2 separate regions of the Homo sapiens genome follow, and region 2 is linked to region 1. A link means that fine-mapping ties the variant in region 1 to the expression of a gene that starts in the linked region. Tissue or cell type: visceral fat. Region 1 holds a variant in brackets; the other region holds the start of a gene. All regions are shown on one strand. Distances are from middle to middle.

Region 1 (2,760 bases):
GTCTAATTTGATGCAAAAAGAATGATTTTGGAATTAACACATCTATCATAACAATGTAAAAACATACGGTGCAGATAGATCATAAATAATGTAACCTGTCAGCCTCAAAAGTGGTTAAATTTAAAATGGTAACTTAAGTAATTTTTCTCAGTAGTATCAATCACATGTCTCAGTAATGGTTATTTTAATTTTAAGGTAAAATTAGATTTATTTTATTTTTAGGGGAATAGTGTAAAGAATATTTGTGTTTGACACAATTTTATTGATAAAATTTTCTCTCCTGTTTTCTGAAATGATCCCTGGAAAGCATAACGTATCTCATTTTATACACAATATCTTCTCTGTAAACCCTAGCACACGTTGGTTTGCTTCATTGTATTGTCCCATGAGTTTCTTACTCAAGTGTGATAGTTGGGTAAGTTTTCGCTTTAGATGCCTGTTTTCTGTAGTATTTTACCAGAGAATCAATCTGAGATGACGGACAAAGACCTGTTTGACTCTTTTCAGTAATGTAGGGAACTACAGTCAATTTAAAATAACTAGCATAAAGGTTACTATTAAGCCATTCTGAAAATGTGTGCCCCTTCTGCCCTGTTTTTACATGTGGCCCATTGTGCATAGCATGTGACTTATCACTACAGGATATGTGACTCAAATTTATTACTTTCTCTTTTGTCTAGCAACAGAAGAGAAGAAATCTCTGAAACGAACTTTTCAGCAAATTCAGGAGGAGGAGGATGACGACTACCCTGGCAGCTACTCTCCTCAGGATCCTTCTGCAGGACCCCTCTTGGTAGGTCTTGACCCCCAGAGAGTAGGGAACAGTGGCTTAAAGTGACCTCTAGTTGAAGACTATGGCCACAAGGTGGCGCCAGTGACCACTGGTATGGAATCATCAGAGGGCACCTCTCAGGGGCCCCGTGCATCATCCTGCCCAAAGGAGCTTGCCGGATGGCAGGTGTCAGTATGTCTTTGCGTGCCATAACTCTGGGATGGGCTTATGTTTTATAAAGTACTTGGACTTGGTTTTTTCAATCCTAGAAATTAAGAATATTCTTTAAAAATAGATTTTGGAGAAAGGGATAGATAATATTACAAAGATATTCAAAAGTCGTCTACCATGGCCTGTCTCCAGTAGCATGGTAGTTTTATAAAGTAACTCATTAATATCTAAAGACAGTCTATGTGTCAATAGCAAATTTGCTGCACTGTAGCCTATTAAATATTGAAACAAGGAGTTAGTCTTTACCCATGTGTTTGTGTTATTTGGCTATACAGGTTAGCTTACAAAATCTAAATGAAAGAAGTTGGGCACAAGGTGACAGTTTAAGTAACTTGACCAGTGTCTTAATTTAAATCCAGGTGTGTCTGACTTCAGAGCCCATGCTCTTTTCAAGGCGGGGGCGGGGGGGGCTTCATCTTATTTTGCCTAAAACAGCTTTATTACACATGGTCATGCTTAAAGCCTATGTAAATAGGAAACATGTCTAGTTTGTGTTATGTTACGGTGTTGAGTTAGACTAGGGATTAAATGACAGCAGTGTTAGGTCATATAT[CTT/C]TGGATTTAAACACTTTAAAGACTACAGCCTAGATTATTACCTTTCAGGGTAATCTAACTACCATCTACAGAGCTAGCTACTCCTTGGTGATTATGGAGTGGCCTGTTAGCATTGTTTTCTGACAATTTAAGAAACTCCTTTTTGATATATACAGAAAATGTATCCCTGGTTTACTTTTCTTGTTTTTTCCCCCTGGGTTTATAATAAGTTTGATACATTTAATTTTGGGAGTGACATCCATTTTGTCAAGAAAACCCAAGAAAGAATTGAAGTAGGTTGATCAGTCAACATATAATTTTTTCCTTCTCCTTCTTGAGACAGGATCTTGCTCTGTTACCCAGGCTGGCGTGCAGTAGCATGATCATAGTTCACTGCAAACTCAACCTCTGGGGCTCAAGTGATACTCCTACCTCAGCCTCCCAAGTAGCTGGGACTATAGACATATGCCACCATGCTTGGCTTATTATTTTATTTTAATTTTTTTGTAGAGACAGGGTGTCGCTATATTGTCCAGGCTGGTCTCGAACTCCTGGGCTCAAGTGATCCTCCTGCCTTGGCTTCCCAAAGTGCTAGGATTACAGGTGCGAGCCACCACACCTGGCCACAACACACAGTTGTTAACATCTGATATTTATACCTTTATTCTATACTGGAAATGATACATCATTTGAAATTAAGCAACATGAACCAAACTCCATTGTTTTGAATTGCCAAAAACATGTTCTTTTAGAATTAAAAAATAATAATAATTATTCAGAATTTCATTCATGTTCTGCCATGGACTTAGATAAACTAATTTTGTGGATTTTCTTAGAGTCCGTGACATTGACTTACATGTAAGCTCTGGGGCTAAGAACAGTTTTTTTTAAGAAATGGCAGGAATGACTGTTTTTAGAATTTGCCTCCACCTCATTTAACTCCAACTAATTTTCTTTAAACCCCATGTCTTAATGGGTAGTGTTGTTTGTGTTTTCATCTTACAGACTGAGGAACTAATCAAAGCTTTGCAGGATCTGGAAAATGCCGCATCAGGGGATGCTACTGTCCGACAGAAAATTGCTTCTCTGCCCCAGGAAGTGCAAGATGTTTCTCTATTGGAAAAAATAACAGGTGAGAAGGTAGAGTTTGGGTGAAAGGTGAGGAGAGAGGGACATAACTGTAATGCAGTAACCCTAGGCCATACTTAACGTCTGCAGGTATA
Region 2 (2,500 bases), 110 kb after region 1:
CTGTCAGAAGTGGCCACTGTGACATGGGGCTGGAGGCTCATCATAACTGGCATCTCCAGGATCTCCCAGCCCCACTGAGCCCTGCTTTTGAGCATGGGGGTGAGAAGATGCATTGAGGACAAGCGGCCACCGAGGCGACACATCACAGTGTGTTGGGAGCTGGGCCCGAGGGAGGCAGGTGGCTGAGATCACACAGCAGGGTCAGGTGGGTCCACAGTTCCTGCCACCCATTCCTGCTCCACCTGCCCCATGTCCCTGTCCCACACCCCTTCCTGGGGGTTGCAATGGGTGCAGAAGCCATCCCCAGATGAACTTGACCCAAGAGCCAGCTGGGATTCTGGGTCCAGCAGTGACATCCTCCATTGTAGAAATCCCTCCAGCTGGGACCTACGAGAGTGCTGCTTGTGTGTGGGGAGGGAGTCAGGGGCACCAGTATGAAATTAGTTAAGCCTCTGTTCCACTCCTCTCGTTCCTCACAGATGCACCAAAGGCTGGAGCAGAGGACCAGGGCACGGTCAGGGTGACAGATGGGTGGGGGTCTTGGGGGAAAACAAATCTCATAAACCTTGTCCTATAAAATAAGGACACTGTTGTCCTTATTTTATAGGTGAGACTCAACAATTGGCCAAGGTCTAGGGTTGCAGAACGTGAGGGCGGGAAGAACAAGCCTGATTTCCGAAGGCTCCTGGATAGGATGCCGAAAGCTCCTCTCTGGCCGCTGGAGCCAAGGACTCAGCCAGGCTTGGCTTGCACACCACCGGCGTGGCATGCACACCACCTGGTCCTGGCTGGCAAGAACCACCCAAACCTAAGTGTTCTGAGGCCAGGCCAGCACCCCCTGCACAGCTCCAGGCACACATCAGAGAGCCAGCCCCCACTGACTGACTGAGGACACGTGCCAGTGGTCCGCCAGGACAGTACTTTACAGTTTACAACACCCCGTCGCGTTCCATTGCCTCACCTGATCCAGGGAGGCAAGGGTTAATGGTTATGCAGTGTGGATGGGGAAACTGAGGCTCCAAGCAGCATTGAGACGCCTCCTCACCCAGCCCGGTCTGCCTGTTGCTCTCCAAATCAGGACTTAGGGATTCAGCTCCCACCGGGTCCTGACCCCCAATGCCCCGGGGCCCCTGAGTGGCGGCTGCGGTGACTCTGATACTCACCCTCGGCCATGGTCGGGCGGGGGCGGTGGCTCCTTCCACTGGCGGCGAGACCCTCCAAGTGCGACCACTGGCGGCTGGCACTGCCGAGGCGGAGAGCGGCGCTAACTTATAGCCCGCTTTGGGGCGGGCCGGGGGCGGGGCCCCGCGGGAAGGCGGCGACCTGGGAGGCCACCCATTGCCCAGTCCCGGGCCCACGCCGCCAGCGCTGGGGCTCACCCAGGGGACCGGAGCCCGAGGGAGGGACGGCGGCCGGACGAGGGCGCCCCCTGGGGGAGCGGACAGGGACACACAACTAGCCCAGGATACAGACACACCTGGACCCACAGACTCAGACCTTGGAGAACAGACACCTGGACACACACACTCAGATACAGACACACGCAGCACCCTCATAGAAACACACAACGGAACCGGGGTGCACCTGGACACACAGATGTGGACTCTTAGGTCAGATCTGGGATCAAGAACACCTCCCCACCCCCAACACACACACACACACACACACACACACACGCACACACTCACACACATACTCAGATATACATACACAGAGAGCAGACGCAGACACACCAAGACAGGGCTGTGGAGATACACACACAAACACAGATACACTCCCACAGATACACCAAACACGGCTGGCCACGCAGACACAGTGACATGGATACAAATTCAGATTCGAATGGCAGACACACACCAGGACATAGATACAGCCTGACACAGCCAGGTAGCCTTGACCGCGAGCCACACACAGCTGTGGACACAGATGAGCAGGTGTCCAGAGGCACCTGGCACACACACAGACCTCCTAGACACCAATGCCACTGTCAGATGTGGACGCAAAATCAGAGAGGGCACCCACAGACACACAAAGATGTGGCTACTCAGAGGTAGACACACATGCAGGCATGGACTCAGGTACAGACATGCAGACACACCTGCAAAAACAGACACACCCATGTCCCTTCCTGTAGCAAAACCCAGATAATCCTCCGATCTCACCCATCCTTGTATCTGTCTAATCAGCCATCCATCTAATCAGCCATCCATCTACCCATCCATCCACTCACCCATGCATCACCTACCCCCCCACCTATCCATCCACTCATCCCTTCATCCATCCCTCCCTCGGCCTTCTCTTCCCTCCCTCCCTCAATCCATCCATCCACTGAGCTTTCTTGAGGCCCCACTGTGTGCCAGAAAGGAGCAAGACTAACTTTCCAGGGACTCAGCCTAGGACTTCTCGAACCTGGCAACCAGGGGTCCTATCTCTCATCCTGGTATCTCTGGTCTCTTGGTCTCCTGTGCTTCCGGATCCACTGTGAGCCCTGAGCGGGAAG

What was found. PIP is the estimated chance that this variant, and not a neighbour inherited with it, causes the effect.
Region 2: TGM2 starts here. The variant in region 1 is fine-mapped to the expression of TGM2 in visceral fat (GTEx, PIP above 0.99).

What each region holds. Positions count from the first base shown.
Region 1 is chr20:38,056,852-38,059,611 of GRCh38, forward strand. It overlaps RPRD1B (regulation of nuclear pre-mRNA domain containing 1B), which reads left to right. Exons shown (of 7, transcript NM_021215.4): 4 at 681-793; 5 at 2,543-2,669. Among named protein-coding and RNA genes, the nearest start is that of RPRD1B, 24 kb to the left of the region's middle. The variant CTT/C (reference allele first, on the strand shown) is at 1,557.
Region 2 is chr20:38,164,026-38,166,525 of GRCh38, forward strand. TGM2 (transglutaminase 2) reads right to left here and starts at 1,245. Exons shown (of 13, transcript NM_004613.4): 1 at 1,164-1,245. The coding sequence starts at 1,173. RefSeq lists a silencer at 1,098-1,537.